Linked DNA regions of Homo sapiens: regions 1, 2, 3, 4 and 5 are each reported to be linked to region 6. Evidence: microRNA targets listed by miRTarBase, many of them from high-throughput screens and not tested one by one. Region 6 holds a microRNA gene; each other region holds the end of a gene's coding sequence.
The links. Region 6 holds the annotated microRNA hsa-miR-30c-5p (UGUAAACAUCCUACACUCUCAGC, at 1,262-1,284, shown strand). A microRNA usually pairs through its seed, bases 2 to 8, with sites in the 3' UTR of a target mRNA and lowers its output. Matches are read on the target gene's strand: a 7mer-m8 pairs with bases 2 to 8, a 7mer-A1 pairs with bases 2 to 7 and ends in A, and an 8mer does both.

Region 1: the mRNA of CUL2 is a reported target of hsa-miR-30c-5p. Seed matches in the 3' UTR shown: 8mer at 4,041-4,048.
Region 2: miRTarBase lists PLSCR1 as a target of hsa-miR-30c-5p. The part of its 3' UTR that is shown has no 7-base or 8-base seed match.
Region 3: the mRNA of MTCH2 is a reported target of hsa-miR-30c-5p. Seed matches in the 3' UTR shown: 7mer-m8 at 1,917-1,923.
Region 4: the mRNA of HUS1 is a reported target of hsa-miR-30c-5p. The part of its 3' UTR that is shown has no 7-base or 8-base seed match.
Region 5: the mRNA of SOCS3 is a reported target of hsa-miR-30c-5p. Seed matches in the 3' UTR shown: 8mer at 1,819-1,826.

Annotation. Positions count from the first base shown.
Region 1 is chr10:35,006,143-35,011,216 of GRCh38, forward strand. CUL2 (cullin 2) reads right to left here. Exons shown (of 21, transcript NM_003591.4): 21 at 2,409-4,300. The coding sequence ends at 4,169. It overlaps LOC124902409 (a long non-coding RNA gene), which reads right to left and starts at 456. Exons shown (of 2, transcript XR_007062110.1): 1 at 1-456.
Region 2 is chr3:146,511,691-146,516,764 of GRCh38, reverse strand. It overlaps PLSCR1 (phospholipid scramblase 1), which reads left to right. Exons shown (of 9, transcript NM_021105.3): 9 at 664-1,585. The coding sequence ends at 720. Among named protein-coding and RNA genes, the nearest start is that of PLSCR1, 30 kb to the left of the region's middle. RefSeq lists an enhancer at 2,112-2,613.
Region 3 is chr11:47,614,545-47,619,618 of GRCh38, reverse strand. It overlaps MTCH2 (mitochondrial carrier 2), which reads left to right. Exons shown (of 13, transcript NM_014342.4): 13 at 700-2,302. The coding sequence ends at 786. Among named protein-coding and RNA genes, the nearest start is that of C1QTNF4, 23 kb to the right of the region's middle. RefSeq lists a silencer at 2,007-2,066.
Region 4 is chr7:47,961,159-47,966,232 of GRCh38, forward strand. It overlaps HUS1 (HUS1 checkpoint clamp component), which reads right to left. Exons shown (of 8, transcript NM_004507.4): 8 at 2,130-4,280. The coding sequence ends at 4,198. Among named protein-coding and RNA genes, the nearest start is that of PKD1L1, 15 kb to the left of the region's middle.
Region 5 is chr17:78,353,740-78,358,811 of GRCh38, reverse strand. It overlaps SOCS3 (suppressor of cytokine signaling 3), which reads left to right. Exons shown (of 2, transcript NM_003955.5): 2 at 1-2,034. The coding sequence ends at 394. Among named protein-coding and RNA genes, the nearest start is that of SOCS3, 3.8 kb to the left of the region's middle. RefSeq lists enhancers at 1,326-1,975, 2,033-2,532, 3,358-3,407, 3,731-4,232 and a silencer at 2,111-2,298.
Region 6 is chr1:40,756,039-40,761,112 of GRCh38, forward strand. It overlaps MIR30C1 (microRNA 30c-1), which reads left to right and starts at 1,246; the gene lies at 1,246-1,334. NFYC (nuclear transcription factor Y subunit gamma) reads left to right here. Exons shown (of 10, transcript NM_014223.5): 6 at 2,083-2,256.

The sequences.
Region 1 (5,074 bases), not on the chromosome of region 6:
CCATGTGAGCACAGACAGCATCTTTTCTGCTCATCACCGCATATCTTGTACCCAGCGTAATGCCCTGGCACCAGTACCTGTTTGCTAGATGATAAAACGAAGAGGAATTTCCTGGGTTGTGGATAGGGGCCAGTGGAAGAAAAAAAAATCTCTTACAATTTCATAGGTAGCACAGCCATTCCTTATGAAAATTATCATTCTTCCCCATCAGTAAATCCTACCTTTAATGAATTCTAGCCTATGGGGCCATATATTTCAAAGGATTGCCTAATTTAATTGCTTTGGCCTTGATACGCTTCAAGAACACAGCAATCTTCTACTAGTGGGTCTCTCCATATTAATTTCCACTCATTTCGCTATCGCCCATCTGCAACAGACCTTAGGACTAGTATTTTTATTTATTTATTTTTTTGAGACCGAGTTTTGCTCTTGTCGCCCAGGCTGGAGTGCAATGGCTCGATCTTGGCTCACTGCAACCTATGCCTCCTGGGTTCAAGCAATTCTCCTGCCTCAGCCTCCCAAGTAGCTGGGACTACAGGCGCATGCCACCATGGCTGGCTAATTTTTTGTATTTTTAGTAGAGACAGGGTTTCTCCATGTTGGTCAGGCAGGTCTTGAACTCCTGACCTCAGGTGATCCACCCACCTCAGCCTCCCAAAGTGCTGGGATTACAGGCGTGAGCCACCGTGCCCAGCCAAGGACTAGTATTTTTAAAGTTCGCATCTTGACTTTGACCTTGCTCGACCAAGAATTTATTCTTGGAACCAAAAATCAAGAGGTGAATAATTATCCTTTTCTAGTACATAGCTCAACAAAATTAACTGATAACAACTTTTAAGTATATATACACTGTGAAATAAATGTTCTGTAATAGTACATGTGAATGTAAAACACTAAATTCACAAATACGCTTTGTCATGAATCAGCTATGTGCCAAGACAAATTCCTTAACCGTGTTTACATCATCTTAAGTATCTTAAGAAAAATATGATGTGTTTATCATACATTATTTAACTAGAAACAAATTGTTATTCTAAAAGGTCAGGAAAAACTATTCTTTATGTATGAAATGAAGTTATTTCTACTTATTTTAGAGGCTATATACCTATACAGAGAGGCCATACTTATAACATCCATGGATTTGACTGGCATTTAAATTCAGGTTCTGCAGTTTACAACAGTAACTCCTGGAAAAGTCTCATTTAGTTTCCTCACCTATGAAAAAGAGAAGCATTGCCTATCAAACAGGATTACCTGAAGATTAAACAAAATAACATAGGTGGAAGCACCTGTCATCATTTATACTCAAAAAGGTTTTTTAAAAAAGTGAACAGACATGGGATAGCATGGTAGCGTACATAGGTTACAAAATCCTAAAAAGATAGTAAGTTATAAAGAAAATAAAGCATAGTGGCTCACACCTCTAATCCCAGCACTTTGGGAGGCCGAGGCAGGTGGATTGCTTGAGCTCAGGAGTTTGAGACCAGCCTGGGCAACATGGCAAAACCTCGTCTCTACAAAAAATACAAAGATTAGCCGAGTGTGATGGCATGTGCCTGTGGTCCCAGCTACTTGGGAGGCTGAGGTGGGAGGATCACTTGAGCCTGGCAGGTCGAGGTTGCAGTGCGCCGTGATTGCACCACTGCACTCCAGCCTGGGTGACAGAGCGAGACCCTGTCTTAAAACAACAAAACAAACACACAACCCCCAGAGTGCTTGTTTATATTAAAGCAAATGGTCATAAAATATTGGACTAAACCTTAAAATAAGTCTGCACCTTCAGTAGCAATTAAATATTTGCTTTCAAAGGGAAAGGACTGGCATGTGGACAAGGCCTCATGCTGGCTGGCTATAAAATGCATCACTGACTCACATACGTAAACTACCTTAGTATTAATGACTTCTAAAAAACTTCTGAGGGTTTTGCTTACTTGTGTTTTCTGCAGTGAAGCATAGAAAATCCTCCTCTCCTTGCTCCTTTTTCCTTTTCATAGCTCTGAGCTGTTTTGCCCACTCGCACTAGTTACTGCACAGCAGGGCGGCCAGGTCAGAGCTCTGGGCTGTGTGCTACAGCTTCTGCAGTGATGACTTCAATCTCCTGACCTAACTTGACAAGACTGCAACTCTTCCCAGCACTCTCTGCAGGGGAAGGTGTGCGCTGCAATGAATTCCAAACATTGCTCCCTTTCTGAATGGTGCCTTGGTTGAACAGATTTGGCCTCTCTTCCTCATGCGAGAGATGTTTCCTTTCAGATAAAATGGAGAAAGGATGTGAAGAAAACTCTTGTAAGCCATCTCTGTAGACCTCCGCACAAGTATTTTGTCCATTTTTCAGTATATTTTCTTGACAATTAGATACCAGGATAAGACTTAATTTAACATTTATAAATATTTAAGAAAAAAAGGAATCAATTTGGAAAACTTTTATCAATCAACAAGTTATCAAAACAAGGGTTTGCTTTTTGACAGTGAATGTACAATATTATATGGTTTGCCATTATTTCCTCTTTTGGAAGAAAGGTAAAATGAGAAATACATTATATAAGTCATTATAAGTTCAGTAGATTTTTAAAACACTTGAGACACGAGTTAGAAAAAATGCAATTGAATAAACCAATTGTAAGACCCATCTCAAAACAACAAATTTAAATATGAACCACATATTAGATGATACTAAGTAATTATTGTTTTTGTTAGGAGTAATAATATCACTGTGGATTTTTTAAAGGCCTTACTGAAGTATTATAAGTGAAATAATTTGTGTGATTTGCTTTAAAATATTCCGATTTTAAAAATTTTGTGTTGGATGGATGCAGTGGCTCATGCTTGTAATCCCAGCACTTTGGGAGACAGAGATAGGATTGCTTGAGGCCAGAAGTTCCAGACTAGCCTGGGAAACATGGCGAAACCCCGTCTCTTATTTTTTTTAAAATAAAGAAAAATTGTATGTTGAGGGAGGAGGGGTGTGGTGGTGGTGGTGATGGTGTGGATAGACAATAAATATGATAATAGATCGCAGTACTCTTAACACTGCTGTTGAGATATATATATATATATATTATATATATATATATATATAAAATAAACAAAATAATGGGATTTATATATGTGGCACCCAGTACAATGTACAATTTTCTTTTTTAAAAAAGTATTTAGGTTATGCATTGCTAAGCACATCTGTGATTGATGAGAGTGACTCTAGTATCTAAACTGTTGGAGGAGGGTTGTAAGGGTAACAGGTAGGGGAGGCATATAGAAGGAATATGTTGGTATCATAGATTTCCTAAGACTCAGGGAAGGCCACAGAGCTAGGGTACTAGTCTATGCTAGAATTAATGGATTATGCAACCGAAGAAAGACAACTTTTGAATGAAAAGCTCTCTCTGTGCCAGACTTGAGGTCACCAAGCATCCTGCTCACACTCTGCGATGTCTGTGGAGTAGCACACCACCAGAAACTGCTGATGGAATTACATCTTCAAGATTCAAAATGTTTAGATCCAATATATCTAATCCATAAAAATAAAGCATTCTTTATGCTGAATGCAGTCCTATGCAGTCAAGAACAATAATCTAGACATTTTTCATGTAGGATTTAAATAGGAGTACAAGTGAATTAAACCATTCAGATAAAAACGCAACTAAAGATGCATTAGCTGCTTTGAGTCAATATATTTTGTGGTCAACCTGATACTCCATCCACATAAAAAAGGCATTCTATTTCTTTATTTTTTTTTTATTTGACAAGCAGCAGTATCATGTTTGTCATTTTAATGTAGATACAATTATTAGGTTATCTGTCATATTACAATATTTAAGTTTTTAAATTTTATGTCCTTTAAGATACATTAAAAAAAAAAAAAAAGACACATCAACTGCAAACGTGAAGGGGAGAAAAAGCATGGTACCCAACCGAATTTCCACTTTTCAGCAATACTTCACTCATTCTTTTAATAAAGTTTTAAGAAATGTCATAATGACATGAGCTTGAAATATCTCTAGGCATTTTCTTTGACGCTCATGACGTGGCACTGGTGATGTTGTAAACAGCAGAAAACAGGGGCTGCCAAATGACCAAATTATGGAGGCACAGTCCTGCTTTTTCCCACAGGAACACACCAAATGGTGATGGCAATGATCTTCTCACACCACGCTGGAGGAGAGCGACATCACGCGACGTAGCTGTATTCATCTGCCGACGCCTGGCTGCGTTCTATGTATTGTTTGTCTATCAGAACTTCAATACACTTCTTAATCATGCTGATACTGGGATTAAACCTAGCTCTTGACTGGCTAATCACCTGTGGAAGAGATGTGGAAGTCAAACTACTGCCAGTTCTTCAGCTATTAAGTAATGACTTTTAACCAATCAGTTTAAAGTGCCTCAAATGTACTGAGGTTTCAACAAATGGGCCAAATTAAGTATGAAAATAGGAACTACAATGTGGAAAATGGATACAGCAAAATCTAATAATGATACATAATTAAGTGAAACAATAAACTAATTAACCTAAGTACTCACACACAACCCCAAGCTTCTATTTAACTCAACTCTCAGCTCTTAGTTCAAACACTTTCTCAAGAAAGTTTTCCCCAGCAGCCCCTAGGCCAGGATATTTAAATACATTCTCATAGTACTGTATACGTTTCCTTCAGTGCATGCTAATGTAATTTTACATTTATTTGCATATCATTTCAATAGTGTATTTCTTCCCCCATTAAACTGTGAACTCCAAAAAAGCCTGCCATATCTTCAGCTGCTCTGTGCTATATCCCAGGGACCAGCCCAGCTGTCTATCACATGGTAGGCTCAGATAGTTATGGAATGAATGAATATCTGATGGGTCAATTTCCTTCAATAACTGGACAGAAGACTCAATGAATCAGCAAGTTTTAGACCTCTAAAATAAAGCCAAAGCAAATATGAATTTATTATTATCATTTGAGATAGCATCTCACTGTGTCACACAGGCTCAATCCCTGGGCTCAAGCAATCCTCCCGCCTCAGCCTCCCAAGTAGTTGGTACTACAAGTGTGCCGCCACAACTGGCTAATTTTTTAATTTTTTAATTTTT
Region 2 (5,074 bases), not on the chromosome of region 6:
CTAAGGAGAGATTTTAGTCTCCCCTTAAATCAGGCATCTCCTAGATGCTTTGAGGAAGAAGTTGAAAGTAGGCATATGTGGAAAAAATTTAGTGAAACAAGGAAACTTTACCATGACTCATAGTAATTAAATTAAACCATCTAATATAGGAGTATGAAGTACAATAAGAGTGTACATTCACTCAAGTGTGTAGACCTAACTACCAAATTACAGGAAATAATTGGATATACCAGTGATTCTGAAATTGCCTTCACATTAGAACCACCTAGGGACTTTAAAAACTCCAAGGACTAGTCCATACCTCAGTTCAACTAAATCAGAAACTTCGAAGTTCATATAGTGTTCCAGGTGATTCCAGTATGCAGCCAAAGATGAGAATTATGGGGATAGAGAAAAAGTAACATTTAGAGAAAATGACTGGAAGATTAATTAAATTCATACAGGTATCAATAAATGAATAGAATTATAGAATTTATTATTAAAATGGAAAGCCAAAGGCAGAACTTATATAATTATAGAGCTTTTGTATATTTACTTATTACATTTAATTTTTTTAACAGATTTGTTACTGTGTTTCACTAGATCCCTTAGTATTTCTGCATCTGATAATTGATCTCTGTTTTGTTGTTGAAAATTCATTTGTATACTTTTGTTTTTATCTAGGACTTCATGTTTTTTGAAAGCACTGGCAGCCAGGAACAAAAATCAGGAGTGTGGTAGTGGATTAGTGAAAGTCTCCTCAGGAAATCTGAAGTCTGTATATTGATTGAGACTATCTAAACTCATACCTGTATGAATTAAGCTGTAAGGCCTGTAGCTCTGGTTGTATACTTTTGCTTTTCAAATTATAGTTTATCTTCTGTATAACTGATTTATAAAGGTTTTTGTACATTTTTTAATACTCATTGTCAATTTGAGAAAAAGGACATATGAGTTTTTGCATTTATTAATGAAACTTCCTTTGAAAAACTGCTTTGAATTATGATCTCTGATTCATTGTCCATTTTACTACCAAATATTAACTAAGGCCTTATTAATTTTTATATAAATTATATCTTGTCCTATTAAATCTAGTTACAATTTATTTCATGCATAAGAGCTAATGTTATTTTGCAAATGCCATATATTCAAAAAAGCTCAAAGATAATTTTCTTTACTATTATGTTCAAATAATATTCAATATGCATATTATCTTTAAAAAGTTAAATGTTTTTTTAATCTTCAAGAAATCATGCTACACTTAACTTCTCCTAGAAGCTAATCTATACCATAATATTTTCATATTCACAAGATATTAAATTACCAATTTTCAAATTATTGTTAGTAAAGAACAAAATGATTCTCTCCCAAAGAAAGACACATTTTAAATACTCCTTCACTCTAAAACTCTGGTATTATAACTTTTGAAAGTTAATATTTCTACATGAAATGTTTAGCTCTTACACTCTATCCTTCCTAGAAAATGGTAATTGAGATTACTCAGATATTAATTAAATACAATATCATATATATATTCACAGAGTATAAACCTAAATAATGATCTATTAGATTCAAATATTTGAAATAAAAACTTGATTTTTTTGTATATTTGATTTTTGTTTTTAAACGAAATGTGTTCAGATGGTATTTTGAGCACTCATTCAGTTAAATGATGGTACATTTGAAGCAGGATATTTCCCTGACCCCTTCACAGGACTCGAGACAGGGGTGCCTTGTTTACTCAGCCTGCCATTCTCAACTCCTCCTGGGAGGGAGTGCACAGGCAAACAAGGCAGGAACTGGAGTGTACAAGCACTGGAACTGGCTGGCCGCTTTGGCATGGGCAGGAACAAACTGTGCAGGCCCTGTGGTAGCATCCAGGTGGGGTTGCCTGCGATTCCTGAAGCCCCAGAAGATGTGTTAACAGTGCTCTTTTAGCTCTGCTGTCTGTGGACGGCTTAAGTGTTAACAGCTCAGTGGGCCCTTTGCCTTGTCATGTGGGACAGCTGCCCTCCACCAGCAAGGGCAAATGGCGAATGTGAGAGCCTTTTATATCGGCACTCATGGCTCCCAGGCTCTTGTCCGGTGTCCAGGAAAAATGTGGTCACAAAAACAAACTGAAGGATGGTAAATGAGGGGGATTTTATTGCTGATGAAAGTGGCTCTCAGTGAGAAAGGGAGCTGAAAAGGGGACAGTGGGGTAGGTGATCTTCCCCTGAAGTCTGGCCCTGTCCAGCTGGATTCTTCTCTGAAGTTACACTGTCAAGCTGTCCCTCTGAAGTCAAGCTGCTTCTCTCCAATGTCCAGCCATAGTCTCCACTCCTCTCTGACTGAGTCTTGGGTCTTTATAGGCACAGGATTGCAGGCAGGGCGGGCCATGGGCAGTTTAGGAAAAGGCAACATTCAAGTAGGAAAACAGGGATATAAATTCTCACTTTGGGCCGGGGTTTCAGGCATTTCAGCTTGAGGGTAGGGTTTTCACTGGGGACTCACCCTTTTCTACCTAGAATTTCTCTGCCTCCTGTCTCCATCATATTTAACTGACTTTTCCTTTCAAATCTCCTTTAAAAATGAGCAAAGGTACATGACACTTTGTAGTAAAATCTGTACCAGTGTTGGAAACTAGGATTTCCACCTGTCAGAAGCTTATAAGAATTTAGTTAATCTCTTTTGTAATGAAGATTGAGTTGAAAGATGACATGAACAACCCACAATATTCTTCATGCAATGGAAAAGTATGCTTAAGCAATAAGGGCATGTGGAAGAGTCCCTCTTTCATATTCAGCACAATTCTTGTAACAGCAGCTCTCCTCATGGTGTTAGTGCCCTAGACCTCAATAGCTCCAAATGGCAAGCGGTGAGAACATTAGTATGCAGGAGATCTTCAGGAAAAGTCAAGTCTAGATGATCTCCCACAAGTCTAAACAATTCACCAGATGCCAAGTTCCAGTGATGAGGTGTACCCATGGAACTCAGAGCATGTGCTTGGTACAGATGGCATGCCAAGAAAAGTGGAGGTACTTGCATAGCTGAATCCCAATGGCATTGTTATGCCAGTTACAGAAGAGGGTGGGCATAGGATTTCCAAACTGGCCATAATGTGCCAAAACTAACCCAAAATAAGGCTTAGAGTACTGACATTATCTCTGTGACAGCTAAATTTTACTTTCATTATTTCTCTCTCTCTCAACAGGATTCTGGATCTTTGGTTAAGCAAAATGAAACTAAACTGATCTAAACATTTCTTTCTTCAACTCTGCAAAGAAGATCTGAGCAAAACCCCACATATCTTCTGCAGAACCTATTTAAATACTAGACAAATATCTTCTCATTACATAATTACATACAGAAAATAATCACACATGAAAAATTCGATATTTAATTAAGAAAATACCAGGAATTGTTTTTCAAAGTTTAATTTGTAATCTCAATGAGATTTGAGGAAATGTTGCATATTTTTTTATTTCTACCATGTGAGTTATAACAGTGAATGGAAAGTCACTGCGTGTCCCTGACTAGGGAAAATATTCAGGAGGAAAAGCTGCAATGGATGGGGCATGGAGGTATATTTTTGATCTTGGGAAGGAAGTTCTAGGTAGGTGGTCAGTGAGGAAGGGGGAGAAGGAGGGAGGAAGAAGGAGGGGAGGGAGGGGAGGAAGACAAGATTAAGGGATGTCAGTACCTCTCCTATGTACCTCTTGGGGGAGGGTTGAGGAGTGAGGGGAGTGTAAGTGAAAGTAGAGACAAGGCTGGGAGAGGAAAAAACAAAAAGCACCAGCCACAGGCAATTAAATTGCCAGAAAGTCAGTGTCTGGGCTCCCGGCATCAAGTTAGCTAGCTACTCTATGGATAAGTACTGAAGCTTTAATTGCATTTGGGCTCAAAAACAACAACTGTAACTTTAGGGTAACTAGAAAAGCCTCTGTAGAGAATCGCTGCCATCAGTTAAGAATGGAATGATTTAAAATGTCTCTGGGCACAATGAAGTGCTCCTAGAGCTTAAAGTGCCAGAAAAGTGTACAGGGTTTCCCTCCATGTCCTGCCTCTCTCCTTTACTGTCTCTAGCCCAGCATACACCGCCTGAGTTTCTAGGGCCATGTTCCTGCACCTGGTACTGTCTCCTTCAAGCTGTGTGTTCCTCCTTGTGCCTTAATTTCCCTTAGTTGTCAATAGTATCGTTGTCAATTGATTATGTTATCTACCTCATAAGGTCAGTATGAAGATTCAGTGTTCTAATGCAGGTTCAGAGACCTGAGCAGGTTCCTGCAATAGAACCAGTGTAAAAAATGAAAAGGGCTATGTGTTGGTAAAGATCAATGGTTTTCAGAACACAGAGAAGTGTCTCAAAGCCAGTGAAGAATATTTGGCCTAAAGTAAATTTCTGTATTGTGATTTGAATAGCAAGCAAAATCCATTTAAACCCTAGCAAGAATACTATCTCCTCAAAAAAAAAAAAAAAAAAAGTCCATGCAAGATGCCAAGCTAGGGAATGATGCTCATCTCACAGAAGTGTAGATTAAGGGAAATTAAGGCACAGGGAGGAACAGAGTCTCTGGCTTCTGTGTTAGAGCCTTTTTTAATCTTAGCTTTATAGTGTCAAAATGTGGCAAGCTATTTTAAGAGAGGAACAATAGCTGGGCGCAGTAACTCATGCCTGTAATCCCAGCACTTTGGGAGGCCAAGACAGGTGGATCACCTGAGGTCAGGAGTTCAAGACCAGCCTGGCCAAAATGGTGAAACCCTGTTTCTATTAAAAATACAAAAATTAGCTGGGCATGGTGGCAGGCATCTGTAATCCCAGCTACTGGGAAGGATGAGGCAGGAGAATTGATTGAACCTGGGAGGCGGAGGTTGCAATGAGCCGAGATTGCACCATTGCACTCCAGCCTGGGTGACAAGAGTGAAACTGCTTCTCAAGAAAAAGAAAAGAGAGAGAGAGAGGAACAATAATCTGGGCCCCTGAAACCAGATGAAACAACTGACAATACAGAGTCTGAACTCATGATTTACAAACTGAGAGGGCCATGGAATGATAAGGAACAAGTACAACTGGTCACAGAGCTCTGCACTTAACAACCCTCCACACACATACACA
Region 3 (5,074 bases), not on the chromosome of region 6:
GTTGTCCAGGTTGTTATTACTTTGATTATAAGATTTTATAAGTAGTCCTTAGAAACATGATTTCATTTCATTAAGAAATAAATAGGCCGGGTATGGTGGATCACACCCGTAATCCCTGCACTTTTGGGAGGCCAAGATAGGCGGATCACTTGAGGTCAGGAGTTTGAGACCAGCCTGGCCAATATGGTGAAACCCCACCTCCACTAAAAGTACAAAAATTAGCCAGGCACGGTGGCGCGTTCCTTTCCCAGCTACTTAGGAGGCTGAGGCAGGAGAATCGCTTGAACCTGGGAGGCAGAGGTTGCAGTGAGCCGAGATTGCACCACTGCACTACAGCCTGGGCAACAGAGCGAGACTCCATCTCAAAAAAGAAAAACAAAGAAATAAATGAAAGCTAGCACTTACTGAATGTTAGGCACTGTTCTACATGACTCATTTGCTAAGCCAGCTGGAAAGTGGCAAAGCCAGAATCCAACCTGGGCGTTCTGTCTGCCCAGAGTAAGAACTTAATAAGGAGAAATTGTAGTTAGTTCATAGTAGCTCAGCCTTTCAGAGAATACTAATCCTTGTTCTGTAGTGATAGTCCCAGTTTTGTCCTAGATTTAGTCACGTCTCCCAATTGGACCTCTCTGCTGATTTGGATTGGCTGATCTCATCTCGCTAGATATTATTTGTGTTTTGTTTTGTTTTGTTTTCCAGGGGAATATGAGCCGAGGAAATAGCTTATTTTTCCGGAAGGTCCCCTTTGGGAAGACTTATTGTTGTGACCTGAAAATGTTAATTTGAAGATGTGGGGCAGGGACAGTGACATTTCTGTAGTCCCAGATGCACAGAATTATGGGAGAGAATGTTGATTTCTATACAGTGTGGCGCGCTTTTTTAATAATCATTTAATCTTGGGAAAATTCAGGTGTTTGGTGTCTGCCTTTTTTGTTCTTTTTTCCAGCACAACATAACTTACCACTGATACTCCCCCTTTAGTTATTCTGAATTAGGATATTTTTGCTCCAAATTCTTATTTTACTTAACCAGAAGGGAAAAAAAGTTGTATTTTCCTGAAGCTACAGGCACTTTGTCATGTGATTTTTGAGTCTCAATTTAAGGCTTTGTAAAATGAAGAGTAGAATTCCAAGAAAAATGAGAAATAATTTTGTAAAACTTAACAAAATCACTAAATTAAACTATATGGGAGGTTATGAATTACTTTTTCTTGGGTAGACCCTAAAATGTCAGTAGCATGCACCAGAATCTGACTCCCATTATGCTTCTAAGCACATTTCATTGACCTTGTCTCTCATACTTCAAGAAAAGGACAGTACATTGCTACATTACCCTAGAAAGTCTGTGTGAGGATCTGCCCCTTCAGTCTGTTATTGCAAAGTAATAAAATGTCACCTACAGGGAGCCTCTGAGCCTACTCTAGTTCAAGAGGCTACCTGAAAAAAAATAAATAAGATAAAGGGTCAGCAACAACAAAGAAAAAGACAATTACAGAAAATAAGCAAGATTTGGAAAGGAAGTATAATGGCACTTTTTTCCTCAAAGGAAGTTCTTGTTTTCACATAAAATATGAAAAGCAGATCCTGCAGGAGTAACCCCCTTCTTTAAGAGCCAAGTATTTGCCAGTGCTTAAATTACACCATACAGTTCTAATTATATATAATCTTTTGTTCTTCAGTTTTTTGTTTTGTTTCCTTTTTGTTATTGTTGCCGAAGGTGAGTAGTTTTGCATTTCTGATGACAGCCTTGGAAAGTATATTTGTAACTCCATGTCTGGTAATGCCAACCCAAGTCGACATGGGTCTTAGGACACTGACCACCTCACATGCCATACCCTCAGTTAAGCATGTTAACATTTATAGGAGGAAAAAAATCACTTTGGGAGAAAATAAAATTCAACTCAAGCATAAAGCTTCTGTTTACTCAGGCCTTCTAAAAAGCAGGTTAAAATGCTCTAAAATGAGAAAGCCTGTGGTTTCACTTATTTATATAACTCACTGGGACATTGCCAAATGAGTAAGCACTTAATTCGCTGCTTCTGAGACTTCTCTGTCAAAACAGCCCCACTGATAATATTAGACAGAACGAGAATGCAGGGGTCTCTTCCCTCCCCTGGGGTTTAGGAAGCTCATGAGGAGCTCGGCTTAAAATGTCTTTGATGTCTCTTCCTTTGTCTCAAAAAGTAATGTCAATTTTATATACTATTTCAATATTACTATCTGCATTTGTTTTAATATAAAAATGTTTGCTGCCTACCTTTTTCTCCCAAAAAATCTTTAAGTAAAGATGATCTGGGAAAATGTGCCATGTTTATCCTGTGGCTTCTGTGAACTTTCATGCTTGCCTATTCCTAGTTGAGAAGCATGTCTGACTCTGATAACCAGTCTACCACCAGAGGACGCCAAGGCTTCAGTTTTTCCTGTGCAAGTTGGGTGGCTGAGAAATTTCTCCAAGGCCTAGGATTGCTCAAAATACTAGTCCAGCTGTTTCAGTCTTGCTGCATCCAAGCTAGAGGTCTAGTCAGAGTCCTATACCTATGATCCTCCATAATATCTTACTATAAGCTACTAACATAAAAGTCTAAAGATATTCAGGGGCTAGGAAATGCAGGTAGGTGCCATTAAGAAACACATGCGACCGGGCGCAATGGCTCATGCCTGCAATCACAGCACTTTGGGAGGCCGAGGCAGGTGGTTCACCTGAGGTCGAGAATTCGAGACCATCCTGACCAACATGAAGAAACCCTGTCTCTACTAAAAATAACAAAATTAGCCGGGCATGGTGGCACATGCCTGTAATCCCAGCTATGCGGGAGGCTGAGGCAGGAGAATCTCTTGAAACCCAGGAGGTGGAGGTTGCAATGAACTGAGATCACGCCATTGCACTCCAGCCTGGGCAACAAGAGTGAAACTCCCATCTCTTAAAAAAAAAAAAAAGAAAAAAAAAGAAACACATGCAAGAAATAATGAACTCAGTAAGTAATATGAACTTAGGCTGGTTGTGGTGGCCCATACCTGTAATCCTAACACTTTGGGAGGCTGAGGCAGGTGGATCACTTGAGGCCAAGAGTTGGAGACCAGCCTGGCCAATATATCTACTAAAAATACAAAAAAATTAGTCGGGCATGGTGGCACGCACCTGTAGTTCAGGAGGCTGAGGCAGGAGAATCGCTTGAACCTGGGAGCTGGAGGTTGCAGTGACCCAAGATTGTGCCACTGGGTGACAGAGTGAGACTCTGTCTCTTAAAAAAAAGAAAAAGAAAAGTAGGGGTTCTCTAGTAAGCCACTTGTGAAACTGGTTTTCCTTTGTGGTACCAAGCTAAGTTGCCACAAACTGTTCCTCTAGAGTATGTGGTGACCATTGAAACCTTGACTTAAGAAGAGTGTGGGGTGGGCTGGGGGCAGTGGATCACTTGAGTCCAGGAGCTCAAGACCAGCCCGGGCAACATGGTAAAACCCTGTCTCTATTTTTTAAAGAAATAAAGGGAGGAAAATTAGCTGGGCGTGGTGGCACATGCCTGTAATCCCAGCTACTTGGGAGGCTGAGGCATGAGAATCGCTTGAACCCAGGAAGCGGAGGTTGCGGTAAGCTGAGATCGTGCCATTGCACTCCAGCCTAGGCAACAAGAGTGAAACTGCATCTTAAAAATAAAGAAGGTATGGGTTTCCTGGAACTTTGGGGGATCATTATAAAAATACTAGGGTAAAAAAGCAACCTTAGTAATCCCAGCAATTTGGGAGGCCGAGGCGGGTGGATCATGAGGTCAGGAATTTGAGACCAGCCTGACCAACATGGTGAAACCCTGTCTCTACTAATACAAAAATTAGGCGTGGTGGCGGGCACCTGTAATCCCAGCTACTCAGGAGGCTGAGGCAGGAGAATCGCTTGAAATCGGAAGGTGGAGGTTGCAGTGAGCTGAGATTGCCCCACTGCACTCCCGCCTGGTCAACAAGAGTGAAACTCTGTCTCAAAAAAAAAAAAAAGCAACCTTAGGATGAAAGAAACATTCAACATAAGCCCTATATTCCATCATCTCTGTTACCTCAGCATACCTTGACTTAACTATAATTTCCTATTCTAGAAATGTCCTCCCCCTCTTGCCAGTGACATGTTTCTGTACTGTCAGATTCAGTTCTAGTGCCATCTCTTTGTGAAGTCACTGAGAGTCCCAACTGGGTGAGAGGGCTGTGCCTTCAAACTCTCCCTCCTTCAGAGCATGTAATGATAGTACAAACTAACTGACAAAAACTACATCCAACACCAAGTTCATGTTTTATACAGCAGGAGCATTACTTCTCTCTGATTTGAAAATCTGTGGGGGAAAAATATATATTTAGTCCTTTAAAACAGGCCAACTAAAACAGCCTGCTTGGATAATATAGTGAGACCTTTTCTCAACACAAAAATTTAAAAATTAGCCAGGCTTGGTGGTGTGCACCTGTAGTGCCAGCTACACAGGAGGCTGAAGTGGGACGACTGGTTGAGTCCTGGGAGGTTGAGGCTGTACTGACCTATGGTCGCACCACTGCACTCCAGCCTAGGTGTCAACTGAGAGCCAAAAAAAAAAAAAAAAAAAAAAAAAAAAAAGCCTCACTGGGCTTTATAGAAAAGCTAGTGGGGTCGTGGCTGGTCTAAGTGCAGCAGTATTGCAACTAGTTGATCACAACCAGTTAACAGATTTTTTTTTCCTTCTCCCTTTCCACTGCTTCACTTAGCCTTTAAAATGTATATTAAAATAAAAGACTGGGTGCGGTGGCTCACGCCTGTAATCCCAGAACTTTGGGAGGCCGAGGTGGGCAGATCACTTGAGGCCAGGAGTTCGAGACCAGCCTGGCTAACATGGTGAAACCCCATCTCTACTAAAATTACAAAAATTAGGTATGGAGGCGCATGCCTATAATTCCAGCTACTTAGGAGACTGAAGCAGGAGAATCGCTGAAACCCAGGAGGTGGAGGTTGCAGTGAGCCAAGGTTGCGCCAACGTACTCCGGCCTGGGCAACAGAGCAAGACTGTCTCAAAGAAAAAAAAGAGGCTGAGGCAGGAGAATTGCCTCAACGTGGGAGGCGGAGGTTG
Region 4 (5,074 bases), not on the chromosome of region 6:
TATAGCCAAGTTATGGAAGCAACCTAAGTGACCATCAAGAGATGAATGGATAAGCAAAATGGACATATACACAATGGAGTACTATTCAGCAATAAAAAAGAACAAAATCTTGTCATTTGCAACCACATGGATGAACCCCTGGAGAATATTATGTTAAGTGAAATAAGCCGGGTACAGACAGTACACGATCTCACTTATATTTAGAATCTATAAAAGCAAATCTCATAGGAGATAGTAGAATGGTGGTTACCAGATGCTTAAGTGTTTGGGGGCAGCGGGGAAGGCAGATCCTGGTCAACGATATATAGTTACAGTTAGATAAAAAGAACTGCTGGGTGTGGTGGCTCATGCCTGTGCTCCTAGCACTTTGGGAGGCCGAGGCAGGCAGATTTCTTGAGCCCAGGAGTTTGAGACCAGCCTGGGCAATGTGGCAAAACCTCATCTCTACAAAAAATACAAAAATTAGTTGGGCGCAGTGGCACACACCTGTGGTTCCAGCTACTTGAGAGGGTGAGGCAGGAGGATTGGTTGAGCCCAGGAGTTTGAGACTGCAGTGAGCCATAATTGTACTACTACACTCCAGCCTGGGGCACAGAGCCAGACCCTGTCTCCCCCAAGAAAAAAAAAAGAGCTAAAAACCAGAATAGGCAAATATATAGAGACAGATATTAGACAAGTAATTGCCTGGGGCCAGGAGGTATATGGTGGGGGAGAGCAGAATAAGGGAGAAGAGAAAAATGAAAAATGATTACTTATGGTTAAGAAGTTTCTTTACTGGGTGATGAAAATGTTCTAAAATTGATAGTGGTGATGGTTGTACAACTCTGAGAACATACTAAAAACCACTAGACAGTCTATTTTAAATGGTTGAATTGTGTGATATGTGAATTATATCTCAATACAGCTGTTTTAAAAAGTTCTGAATTGTTATTTCTTCAAAACGATGGATGCTTTGCTAAATTGGCAACATACACTAAGAACATGAATGTCATTAAATACCTTTGCCTAGTGGCTGAACCAGAATCCCAACCCCAGGACTACTGTTGAGGCCACATTCTAGGTCCCCAAGAGTGGGCTCCTTCACACCAGGCACAGTACCTCACTATAAACTCAGCCTACAGACCTGATGGCCAAGCAGTTCCCTGCTGGGCCAAGGAAGGGCTGGAGGAGGATGGCAGGGCCACTTGGATGCTAGCCAGGAGCAACTGGAATGGGAAATTCTTAAGTGTCTCTGATATGGCACAGAATGACCTCAAAACTCAGGTGATAAAATTCTTGGATAAAAAGAATTGCTGGGTGTGGTGGCTCACAGCTGTGATCCAAGCACTTTGGGAGGCTGAGGCGGGCAGACTGCTTAAGCCCAGGAGTCCTGGGCAACGTACAAAACCTCATATCTACAAAACAATATAAAAATTAGCTGGGCGCAGTGGCACACACCTGTAGTTCCAGCTACTTGGGAGGGTGAGGCAGGAGGACTGCTTAAGCCCAGGAGTTTGAGACTGCAGTGAGCCATGACTGTACCACTGCACTCCAGCATGGGGGACAAAGCCAGACCCTGTCTCCCTCAGGAAAAAAAAAAAAAAAGCTAAAAGCCAGAATAGGCAAATATATAGAGATAGATATTAGACAAGTAATTGCCTGGGGCTAGGAGGTATATGCTGCGGGAGAGCAGAACAAGGGAGAAGAGAAAAGATGTGCGTACCAAAAGGATGTGAGGCCCTGAGCCCAGGGCAGGTAAGGCATGGGACTGCCTTATTTTACCCTGGCATTTAGGACAGTACTCCACAAACCACAAATTCTTATAAATCACAGCCAGTGAAAGTATGCTCAAAATCCAGAAAGCTCTTTTAAAAAAGGTCTCAACACTTTGAGATGTTAGTCTTGAAATAAGTTAATGTTTCAAATTATATTCATTCCTTTAAATGGATTAAATTGCTATTTCTTGACCCGGCAAAATTTTACCTTGGTAGATCATTCAATAAAGCAGCACTGTGCCCTTCTCTAAGTCTGTGGTGTTGTACCGGCTCCTGCCATCATTTTTCACAGCTCTTTGAGGAGCAAAGAGGTGGAGGACTTGGTAGACACTAAGTAGCAAGTTGTGATAAGAATCAGAAACAGACACCAACTTCTTGAATCTCAACTAAGGTTTCTTTAGCCACATTCTACACAAAGATAAAATCTTAAGCCATTCATTAAAATCTTCAAAATTATATGTATTTGATAATAAACATCACATAGAGCAAATGGTTAAGTCACTAACACATTCTCTTTAACAGCAATTTCAGTTTTATAAAACTACTTTCAGATATTGTTTCATTTTGTATCATGATTTTTAAGTTTTCTCACTGCAGCTGGAATTAATTTCGTTACAATGAGAGGAGGAAGGGTTTAAAAATTAAAACGGTGTCTTCTAATTTTAAAATGTTAATTTAACAAAATATTCCATCCTATTTCAACATTATTAAACATAGGCCAGGCGTGGTGGCTCACGCCTGTAATCCCAGCACTTTGAGAGGCCAAGGTGGGTGATCACGAGGTCGAGATCGAGACCATCCTGGCCAACACAGTGAAACTCCGTCTCTACTAAAAATACAAAAATTAGCCGGGCGTGGTGGCATGCGCCTGTAGTCCCAGCTACTCGGGAGGCTGAGGCAGGAGAATCGCTTGAACTTGGGAAGTGGAGGCTGCAGTAAGCCAAGATCGCGCCACTAGCACTCCAGACTGGCGACAGAGTGAGACTCCGTCTCAAAAAAAAAAACCAAAAAACAAACAAAAAACCATTACTAAACATCAAAAGAATCATTCAAATACACTGGTTTTATCAAAAAACATGAAAAAGCCAAAATATAAATTTTCATGTTAGCTAGTCTTCCAATTTCATTTTATCCTAAGCAACTTAGGTCTCAGTTTTGTAATGTGACATTAATATAATGTTTATGGATGGGTGTGATGGCTGATGCCTGTAATCCCAGCACTTTGGGAGGCCCAGGTGGGCGGGTGGCTTGAGCCCAGGAGTTCAAGACCAGCCTGGACAACACAGTGAGACCCTGTCTCTATGAAAAATTGAAAATTAGCTGGGTGTGGTGGTGCACACCAGTAGTCCCAGCTAGTCAGGAAGCTGAGGTGGGAGGATGCCTTGAGCCAAGGAGGTCAATGCGGTGAGCCATGATTGTGGCACTGCACTCCAGTCTGGGTGACAGAATGAGACCGTCTCAAACAAAACAAAACAAGAAAACAAAAGATAATGTTTATCATGTCCACCTCCACAGGACAATGAGATGTAATTATAATAGGAAATATGATGGGTATGTTTCAGGGAGAATGAGCACATCTACCAGTACTGAATCAGCTTTGATGTTCAGAAACATCAAAGAAATATGGTCTCATCACTTAACACAGATGATACCTTAGAAGTTTCGTTTGTTTCTACTCTAAATAGAAGGGTCTTCTTTCCAGAACGACAGATCCGATACACTGTGGAAGAAAGAAATATAAGGAATTACAACCTAAACCCAAAACTGGCCCCAGGAAGAAACTAGTTGGAATGGCAGAAGGAGCTCCCAGCTAAGAGCTGTGTTGGCTGGGCCAGCTCTCTAGGCATCAAGAGGGGAGTGGACTCAGGTGGGCTTGAGTCCTCAGCAAGAGAGAGACTCCAAATGCTGCAGCTGTGACACCCCACAGTGCTCTGAGTAACCAAGGCAGTGGCGGCGGGGTGACAGAGGCTGTTCTTTCTGTCACTGGGCTCCAAGGGGCAGGAGCAGCGGGGTGAACACACTGAAATGCAAGACTGACTGTGCGCTACAGGCCGTGCTGAGCTAGAGCCTCTGCCTGGAGGGAAAGTACCAAGCTCCCAGGCAACAGCTTTACGAATTCTGGCTACTACACCAAGTCTAAATACATGACGATTTTCACAACATCAATGAGAAATTGTTCTTTAAAGTCTGAATAAATAAATTCTAGCTTTTCTTTTCAGTGTCTTAAAAACAAAGCAAAACAGACATGAGCAACATGAAGTGATATGTTTATCCAACTGTGTGTTGTTGAATCAACTTTTAGTTAAAATGTTAGAGAGGGACAAATAAGTACAGTGTGTCGATGTGCGGTGCTGTGAGGGCACAGACCAGTGATCAGAACACAACACCTGCGGCCTCTCCCATCCTGACAAAGTCTCTGCATGCCAACTCCAGCGACAGGGTGCTAGGACAGCGCAGGGATGAAATACTGAAGGGACACGTCTTCATGAAGCAGATCAAAATGCACCATCTTGTTATTCACAATATCTGGGAAGAGAAAAGCCATGATTTTAGAGACCTAGTGCAGCACACACATTTTGATCTCTACTTTTTCAGAACAGCCTTCCCAGCCTGCACCTCCTGTTTTAGGCATCTGTCTTCCCTGAGGCAGCTGCAGAGACCACAGTCTCTCACTCTCACTGCCACAGCTGAGGCTACATCACGGCCCCAGCACTGGCGGCTCCCTGTGCGAGGAGAGGAAAAGTGAAGCGGCCCAAGCCCTTGGCAAAACACCCAGCAGGCTGGCTTCCTGGCAAACCACATTCACCCACATGAGCATCCTTCTGCAGCGAAGAGCAGCTCCTCACCAGTGAGTGGAGGAACTGTGCTGAGAAGAGCCAAGAGCCAGGATCCCCCAACACCTGGGGCAGGCTGTGTCACACACTGCTACATGGGATGGATCCCTGCATCTCAACGGTCCTGCCAATCCCGTGAGGGCCATGGGTGATGGCTAAAATCCAAGGCATCAGGCATGCAACCAAGCAGGGAAGTAAAGAGCACATGAGGGTGGGCAGGAGCACACAGTGTGACAACCACCGAGAGCTCGGGGAGCTGCAGCACAGCAGCCGAGGAAAGCTCTCCAGCAGATATGAGTGAGTGACAAGAAACCATGTGTGAGCAGGCTGCAGAGAGGCCAATCCCAGGAGATGGGAGGTTGGGGAAAGGACCAGAAAGGACAAGCAGGAGACAAACATTCTTTAGGAGAGGTGGTGCAAGGGCACAGGAGAGGCAGAGACTGAGGGTGGCAGGACCTAGCTAGAGGAGGGGACAATTGAGCCGAC
Region 5 (5,072 bases), not on the chromosome of region 6:
CCAGTGTGAGGGGGGCAGCTTCTCTCTGCAGAGCGATCCCCGGAGCACGCAGCCCGTGCCCCGCTTCGACTGCGTGCTCAAGCTGGTGCACCACTACATGCCGCCCCCTGGAGCCCCCTCCTTCCCCTCGCCACCTACTGAACCCTCCTCCGAGGTGCCCGAGCAGCCGTCTGCCCAGCCACTCCCTGGGAGTCCCCCCAGAAGAGCCTATTACATCTACTCCGGGGGCGAGAAGATCCCCCTGGTGTTGAGCCGGCCCCTCTCCTCCAACGTGGCCACTCTTCAGCATCTCTGTCGGAAGACCGTCAACGGCCACCTGGACTCCTATGAGAAAGTCACCCAGCTGCCGGGGCCCATTCGGGAGTTCCTGGACCAGTACGATGCCCCGCTTTAAGGGGTAAAGGGCGCAAAGGGCATGGGTCGGGAGAGGGGACGCAGGCCCCTCTCCTCCGTGGCACATGGCACAAGCACAAGAAGCCAACCAGGAGAGAGTCCTGTAGCTCTGGGGGGAAAGAGGGCGGACAGGCCCCTCCCTCTGCCCTCTCCCTGCAGAATGTGGCAGGCGGACCTGGAATGTGTTGGAGGGAAGGGGGAGTACCACCTGAGTCTCCAGCTTCTCCGGAGGAGCCAGCTGTCCTGGTGGGACGATAGCAACCACAAGTGGATTCTCCTTCAATTCCTCAGCTTCCCCTCTGCCTCCAAACAGGGGACACTTCGGGAATGCTGAACTAATGAGAACTGCCAGGGAATCTTCAAACTTTCCAACGGAACTTGTTTGCTCTTTGATTTGGTTTAAACCTGAGCTGGTTGTGGAGCCTGGGAAAGGTGGAAGAGAGAGAGGTCCTGAGGGCCCCAGGGCTGCGGGCTGGCGAAGGAAATGGTCACACCCCCCGCCCACCCCAGGCGAGGATCCTGGTGACATGCTCCTCTCCCTGGCTCCGGGGAGAAGGGCTTGGGGTGACCTGAAGGGAACCATCCTGGTACCCCACATCCTCTCCTCCGGGACAGTCACCGAAAACACAGGTTCCAAAGTCTACCTGGTGCCTGAGAGCCCAGGGCCCTTCCTCCGTTTTAAGGGGGAAGCAACATTTGGAGGGGATGGATGGGCTGGTCAGCTGGTCTCCTTTTCCTACTCATACTATACCTTCCTGTACCTGGGTGGATGGAGCGGGAGGATGGAGGAGACGGGACATCTTTCACCTCAGGCTCCTGGTAGAGAAGACAGGGGATTCTACTCTGTGCCTCCTGACTATGTCTGGCTAAGAGATTCGCCTTAAATGCTCCCTGTCCCATGGAGAGGGACCCAGCATAGGAAAGCCACATACTCAGCCTGGATGGGTGGAGAGGCTGAGGGACTCACTGGAGGGCACCAAGCCAGCCCACAGCCAGGGAAGTGGGGAGGGGGGGCGGAAACCCATGCCTCCCAGCTGAGCACTGGGAATGTCAGCCCAGTAAGTATTGGCCAGTCAGGCGCCTCGTGGTCAGAGCAGAGCCACCAGGTCCCACTGCCCCGAGCCCTGCACAGCCCTCCCTCCTGCCTGGGTGGGGGAGGCTGGAGGTCATTGGAGAGGCTGGACTGCTGCCACCCCGGGTGCTCCCGCTCTGCCATAGCACTGATCAGTGACAATTTACAGGAATGTAGCAGCGATGGAATTACCTGGAACAGTTTTTTGTTTTTGTTTTTGTTTTTGTTTTTGTGGGGGGGGGCAACTAAACAAACACAAAGTATTCTGTGTCAGGTATTGGGCTGGACAGGGCAGTTGTGTGTTGGGGTGGTTTTTTTCTCTATTTTTTTGTTTGTTTCTTGTTTTTTAATAATGTTTACAATCTGCCTCAATCACTCTGTCTTTTATAAAGATTCCACCTCCAGTCCTCTCTCCTCCCCCCTACTCAGGCCCTTGAGGCTATTAGGAGATGCTTGAAGAACTCAACAAAATCCCAATCCAAGTCAAACTTTGCACATATTTATATTTATATTCAGAAAAGAAACATTTCAGTAATTTATAATAAAGAGCACTATTTTTTAATGAAAAACATGACTTGAGCCTTTTCTGCACCCCTGCCCCCCCGCCCCCCGCCCCGTGCCTTGCTTTCTCTTTCACCCACACCCACACTCTGCATCGGAGAGGAGGAAGAGAGCCGCAGAGGGTGGAATCGAATACGTCTCAGCCTTACGTCAGCACGCCTGCCTCGTGTGTCACTGACAAGCTAAGGCAGCCACCTAGACTTACCGAGAGGGGTAATTCCTGCAAGTCTGATTCAGATCTGACCAGAATATGCAAAGCAAGTTCGAAGGAAGCGCTTCAAAGGGCTTGCAGGGAGCAAGCTGAGCTGTGGTCAAAGCTTTTAGAGGCTCCAGGCTATTAGAGGCGCTCTGGTTCCTTGGCAGGGAGTCGTTCCGAGAAAGCCCAGACATGGGGTCCTAGTGGTGACCTATGACCTCAGTCTAGCCAGGTTCACTGGAAGTGGGGGGAGGGGTGGTCCTGAAGCAAATCTTGCATGCAGGTGGAGCCCCACCCCCTCCCCCACCACAGGACCCCAGGCATTCAGGGGCTTCCTGGCCACTGCTCCCCATGCCTGCTTCCCTTCCCCGTTCCTAGGGGCCCCAACCTGAGCAGCGGACAGGATCACCCTCCTCCCAAAAAGCACCCATCTATTCATCTCTCTCTTTTTTTGAAACAGGGTTCGCTATGTTGCCCAGGCTGGTCTCCAGCTCCCGGGCTGAAGGTATCCTCCCCTCAGCCCATCTATTTTTAGTCACTCTCATTTAAACACTAAGGGGCACTTAGAGGTTACCTGGATTAAGCATCCCACCTGCTCCCACAAGGCAGGCATTCTCATCCCCATGTTCTCAGACATGGCCACGTGCCCCATGTGAGCCAGGACTTGGACTGGTCACTTCTGGTGCCTAGATTGGTGCTCAGTAAATATTTGTCAACTAAGTAGGGGCAGCAACTCAGGTTCAGGGAGGTTAAGCAACCTGGCCAAGGGCACACCACTTGGGAATATGGGGAAAACAGGATTGGAACCCAGGAGCATTTGATTTCCAAAGCCCATGCCTCTCTGCCTCTCTATACACTCAGCATATACCTGCCCCCGGAGTGAGTCCCTCCTTAAAAGCCAAGAGGTTAGTACCCTTCCCCCCAACTCTGGGGTTTCAGCACTAGGGTTCTTCTAATAGCAAAAAACGTCTTCTCTCCTGTAATCCAGCACTTTGGGAGGTCGAGGTGGGCTAAGGGCTGGAGCCCAGAAGTTCAAGACCAGCCTGGGCAATATAGCGAGACCCTGTCTCCATTTAAAAAACAGAAACCAAAAACAAAAACAAAACCACCTTCTCTGAGGTATTCTCCTTTCATGCCTCCTTCTCTGATCCCCGTGACCTGACAGCTGGGAAATGAGTGTTAACCCCAAGTCAGGGGCCCTTATCTCTCTCAGATGACACAAATACCAGAGCCTCTTCCTGGCCCCCTTGCACCCAATATACTGCTCCAGGAATCGGGGTCCAAAAGGCAACAGAGAGTAAATAAACAAAGTCGTTTTTCTTTCCTATTTCCTGGGACTTTTGGAGAAAATGACCTGAAGTGACGAGAAGGGGCCAGGCCAGGCACGAGGCGGCTGAGGGGACAGAGCATATGGGAGCCACACCACAGGCATCATGAAGGAACTCCAGACTGGCAATGTAAACCCAGGTAGGGCCACCTTCCCAAAGCACAAGTGCAGGTGAGGGGGCCCAGTGGGGTGTGGCTCCCCAGTGCCTTCCAGAAGGATGATGAGTCTTCCTCGCCCTGGGGTCTGCTGGTCAGCCACCACTGCCTTCAGCTGCACAGAGTTCCCCTTTCACTGGAATAACAGCCATGAGGGAACCGTGAACCTGGGGTCCTTGTACTTTTTTGTTTTTTGAGACAGGGTCTCACTCTGTCACCCAGGTTGGAGTGCAGTGGCGCTATTATAGCTCACTGCAGGTTTGAACTCCCGGGTTTGGGTAAACCTCCCACGTCTGGGTAATCCTCCCACGTCAGCCTCCTGAGTAGCTGGGACTACAGGCACATTATCACCACGGCCAGTTATTTTTAATTTTTAATTTTTTTTTTGTATATTTCGTAGAGACAGGGTCTCGCCATGTTGCCCAGGCTGGTCTCGAACTCCTGAACTCAAGCAATCTGCCAGCCTCAGCCTCCCAAAGTGCTGGGATTACAGGCATGAGCCACTGTGCCCAGCCACTGGGTCCCTGTGCTTGACCCAGAAGGCAGCTGTTTAGCCAGGTTGTCCAGTGTTCACAGAATGCTAGCAAAAGAATTTGATCTTCTCTGGCCAGGGAGGAAGTAGTTCTCCCTGCCCACCCCAGGGAGGTTGAAACTTGGTTTTGTGGAGTTGCAAAGGCAAGAAGACTCATTTCCCTCCTCCAGACCACTGCCCATCCCAACCTTCCTCTGTCTTTCCACTTCTTCTTCTTCTTCTTTTTTTTTTTTTTTTTTTCAGATAGGGTCTAGCTCTGTCACCCAGGCTGGAGTGCAGTGGCAGGATCACAACTCACTGCAGCCTCAACTGCCAGAATACAAGCGATCCTCCCACCTCAGCCTCTTGAGTAGGTGGGACTACAGGCACACACCACCACACCTGGCTAAATTTTGTACTACTTGTAGAGATGGGATCTTGCTATGTTGCCCAGGCTGGTCTCTAACTCCCAAGCTCAAGCAATCCGCCCACCTCGTCCTCTTAAAGCGCTGGGATTTCATGCGTGAGCCACCGCGCCTGGTGTGTCTTTCCATTTCAGATCAGACTGGACCAACCCTTTGGGTTTGCAGACAAGGAAACCGAGACCCAGAGAAGGGAAGCAACATGCTCAAGCCCACACAACAAGCTGCTGGGAAGGCCAGGAAAGAATCTCTCCCCCAGATGACTCTGCTCAGCACCGGCTCCCTTCTCTCCTCATCCCATACCCCATAACAGAAGTCTTTCTGCACTTCTCAATCCTCAGAAGGGAAGACACCCTCCTCTAAGGGACTTAGTCGGGGGCCCTCTGGCCTGGCTGGGGGAGGAGGGGTATTCCTGGCTCCCAGATGTGCTGACAA
Region 6 (5,074 bases):
CATTCCTGTATACCCTCTCATTACCCAAGAGCTTTTCCAAGTTAGGTCTGGATTTCAGTGATTTGTGCTTTTTGTAAAATAATAAGGGAGATCTCAGTGGAACACAAGTACCTTGAACCTACTTCAATAGCTTTGCAAAGAGCAGTTGGCTTCTGTTTCTTGGCTGCAAAAGGTATCAGTATTTTAGCTTTGCCACAGCCAATACCTAGTTTCCAGGCTGACATTTATTTATAATGATGATAAGTTGGGGTTGAAATTGTTGTGGAAATTGAGACCTAGATGAAAATAAAAGGGAATCTCCTTTTCCTTCTGCCTTAGCATAATCATATTGAGGGTTAAAACTATTTGTGTCTGAAGCACAGACTATATCAACCTAAAAAGTCAGTTCATATATTAACTTAGAAACCCAGAATGTTACAGGTATCTCCCTAAGCTGGGTAGATGGCTGTCAAGTAACCATGTCATGCAGAGACCCATGTTTCTCAGGGGTAGATACTGGCAGTCCTAGTTTTAGTATCCTAGCCCCCAGACATCAGGCAAACAAAGGATACTCAGCTCTGTTCCACAGGGGACACTAGCTGCTTCCTCACACTGTGGCCACAGAGTCTTAGAGGTACCAAAAGAGAGTTTAGAGACTACTTTTTTCTATTGGTAACAGCTGTTGGGTTTAAGAGAATTTGTCATATCAGCAAGTTGGATTCAGAGAACTACTTTCCTGCCTCTAACTGTCTGCCTGTCTAAATCCATTCATCATTCATCACGCACTTACTGAGTGCCTACCTGGGAACGCGGGGGATAGCAGAGAGCAAGAGAGAGCTAGGCTTTGCCCTCATGGTGCTTAACATTTTAGTAGAACAGACAGTTAATTTGACATGCAAGTGCAAAAATGTATACTGTGAGGACAGTACTTTGGAAGCACAGTTGAGGGCACCTAACATAGTGTGGGGATGGGGTCAATACCAGCTTTGTAAATGTTACTTTGGGGAGTTGGAGGCAATCCACAGGGTCTGTGTACATCTAAGAAGTGTCTTTTCCTCTTTTCTGGAACGTGGCAAACTTTGCCCTGAATAAGGACATGAGTAAATTTAGCTAATATTTTTACTCAGCCAGCCCAAGTGGTTCTGTGTTTTTATTGTTTTTGTTGTCCCAGGCAGGGGCACCATGTGTCACACAGGTCACTCCGGATCAGACGCCGTTCTGTGTCAGTGGTCAGGGGCTGATCAACCCTGGACCCTGTGGGCTATAACCATGCTGTAGTGTGTGTAAACATCCTACACTCTCAGCTGTGAGCTCAAGGTGGCTGGGAGAGGGTTGTTTACTCCTTCTGCCATGGAAAACATCAGCTGAAGAAGGAACAGTCTCCACTCCGCAGATCGGACAGAATGCGACCTCCCTAATCAGCCAAGGCAGTACCCCAGCGGAGAGCTGTCCATCAGGCCCCCTGGGTTGCGCTTCTGTGGCTAAGTACAACCAGAACCAGATGTGACACTGGATAGACATGCCCTCAGTGACCACAGAGCTTTCAACAAGCTGTGAAAAGCTGGGTACTTGCCTACCAGTGCTCTCGATCCTGAAATTTCAGCTCAGGAAAAGCCCTGTTTCCCATTAACCTGTTCTGTCCCCCTTGAAGTGGTGGGGCTAAAACGAGAAGAGTGCTGCCTATTTGGGAGATTGGGACCAGGCCTGAGAGGCATGATGTTTGGGTAGCATCTTCCCAACACTTGCAATTAGCACTGTTCTCAGATCACAGGCCTTGACAGCATTTACTGACAAGCACTGCTGGTGTGTGGTTTTTAGTTACGGTACTTATTTGCCCGTTTGCAACTTATCATGCAATGGGTGATTATTTCGTACTTCAGAAATTGGCTGTATGTTTTGTGAAGCCTATAGGATCTGTTATTTTTAGTTTGATTTAGCATAACTGGTCTCTTTGAATTCCACTTTCCTTTGGCTTCAAATGTGGAGAGCTCAGCATTCAGCAGGCAACTGCACATAGCCTGTTTGGGGGAAGAGTGGAAATTCACTGTGGCGGCTGCTGAGTTGGTTCTTTTCCTCTTACCTGCCTCTCTTTCCACCCAACAGGAGGAGGTGCGCCAGTCTGTAACTCCTGCCGAGCCAGTCCAGTACTATTTCACGCTGGCTCAGCAACCCACCGCTGTCCAAGTCCAGGGCCAGCAGCAAGGCCAGCAGACCACCAGCTCCACGACCACCATCCAGCCTGGGCAGATCATCATCGCACAGCCTCAGCAGGGCCAGGTCTGTGAGCTGCTGAGGATGCCCATCCAGCAAGACAGTGCCCCTTAGGTTTTTGGATGGGCAGAGCTTGATGAGGGCAGAGAGGCAGCCAGATCATTATAGAGCACTGGATTTAAAGTCTGGAAACTGGAACTTTTCCCCAGATTCAGCTACTGGGGTGAGATGTTACCCTAATCTCTCTGGACCCTGTTTTTCTCAAAGGTCAAATGAGGAAAGTGTACTAGACAGTATGTTCTCCAGGATCCCTATTAGCTCAGAAATTTTAGAAGGGAAAAAAAAATGTCTGAAATGCCTTATGAAGAGTAGAGGTGCTAAAGTGAACTCCATGCCTGCTGTCTGTGTGTCTGTGTGAGAAGTGGAATTTGTGCCCTTAAAGGGAGAGATTAGGTATCATTGCCAAGTTGCATACTCCTTCTCCCCGTCATTTCTCTGTCCCATATTTGTGTTAAGTGACCTTCTCTTTTTACGATAGTAATCAGAGGACTCTTTCTCTCCCCAGTAGTAGTGTTAAGAGCAGTAGCATTCATGTTTGTTGGGGGTCATGTGAGGCTGCAGAGAACTCTGTACTATGAGCTCTGAATCCAAATTCTCTGTCAATCATTATTTATTCATCAAACACTGAGCATCCTCTGAGGGTAAAGTTCTGTGCTATGTATTGGGGATACAAGCATGAATAAAACAGTCCTTATTTTCAAGGAATTCACAATTTAGTTGGGGATACAAATACTTAAAGGTTGTACCACCACGTGGGAATGTGTACAGGGTGTTAAAGGAACACATTAAAAGAAGTACCTTGGCTCAGCGCAGTGGCTCATGCCTGTAATCCCAACACTTTGGGAGGCCAATGTGGGAGGAACCCAGGAGTTTGAGGTTACAGTGAGGTAGGATCATGCCACTGCACTTCAGCCTGGGCAGCACAGCAAGACCTCTTCTTTAATTAAAAAAAAAAAAAAAAGGCAGGGGCATGTGGTGGCTCATGTCTGTAATTCCAGCACTTTGGGAGGCCGAGGCAGGAGGATTGCTTGAGCCCACGTGTTCAAGACCAGCCTGGGCAACATGGTGAGACCTTGTCTCCACCAGAACATCAGAACATTAGCCAGCCATGGTGGCATGCTCTTATGGCCCCAGCTACTTAAGAGGCTGAGTTGGGAGGATCGCTTGAGCCAAGGAGGTCAAGGCTACAGTGAGCTGTGATTGTGCCATTGCACTCCAGCCAGGGTGACAGAGCAAGATCCTGTCTCAAAAAAAAAACAAAAAAAAGTATATGTGTGTGTGTGTGTGTATGTGTGTGTGTATTATATATGTGTGTATATATATGTATATGTGTGTGTATGTATGTAGGGGAGGGGATGAGTAGCTGAGAAAGATGTGAACGAGGTGGTCAGATAATGTTTCTGAAGGGAATAATATGAGTCTTGGGGAACAGTGGAAATTAATCAAAGAAAGTGGGAAAGGGTGGTATTGCCAGTAGAGGGCACAGCACAGGCAAAGGCTCAGAGGTGAGAAACAGTACAGGGGGCCGTAGGAAAGTAGTCAGCGTAGGGGACCATCTACGCAAGTTTGGAAAGATAGATAGTAAACACATCCTGGACAGCCTCGTATATTCTAATAAGGAGCTGAGTTTGCCTAGAAGAAAAAAAAATGGAGTAGAGGTAGATTGATTGATTGATGTTTTTTTAAAGATAAGTTCTCACTTCGTCACTCAGGCTGGAGTGTAGTAGCACAATCATAGCTTACTGCAGCTTCAAACTACTGGGCTCAAGCAGTCCTTCTGCCTCAGCCTCCCGAGGAGCTGGGACTCCCAGGCATGTGCCACCACACCTGGATAATTTTTAATTTTTTTGTGGAGATGGGGTCTCATTATGTTTCCCAGGCTGGTCTCAAACTCCTGGCTTTATGCCATCCTCCCACCTTGGCCTCCCACAGTGGTGGGATGACAGGCATGAGCCACCATGCCCAGTTAGGAGGTAGATTTAAGTAATTATGATTTGGCCAGGTGCGGTGGCTCACACCTATAATCCCATCACTTTGGGAGGCCAAAGCAGGAGGGTCGCATGGGCCCGGGAGTTGGAGACCAGCCTGGGCAATATGGCAAGACCTTGTCTCAAAAACAAACACACAGAGAATTAAAAATAAGTAATTATGGCTGGGCGTAGTGGCTCACACCTGTAATCCCAGTACTTTGGGAGGCCGAGGTGGGCGGATCACAAAGCCAGGAGTTCAAGACCAGCCTGGCCAATATGGTGAAACCCCATCTCTACTAAAAATACAAAAATTAGCCGGGCGTGGTGGCGGGCGCCTATAGTCCCAGCTACCCGGGGAGGCTGAGGCAGGAGAATCTCTTGAACCTGGGAGGCGGATGTTGCAGTAAGCTGAGATCGTGCCACTGCACTCCAATCTGGGTGACAGAGCGAGACTGTCTCAAAAAAAAAAAAAGGTAATTATGATTTTAGGATTTATTCTCTGCTCATTTTACTTATCCATATAACAAAAATGTATTGAGTGCTTGTTCTATGCCAGACACTGTGCTAGGCAGGAGGGTTCAAAGATAATGGCTGCTCAGTCACTGGCTCAAGGCCTCGACTGTATCATGATGCCTAAGGGACCTTCTTTGGCTAATGCTTGTGCCTCTGCAGTGGTGAAAACTTTACCTGCCAAAGGCTTTATCCCTTTACAGAATGAACTTAGAGGGAGTCTGCCAAGGGCAGGCTCTGATTGGCTGATCATCCTAAGAAGCTCATGGCTGTTGTGCCCTGACAGCAGGGCACACCATACATGATTTGACAGCTGCCATGCTAACACAAGCCCTCATTTTCCT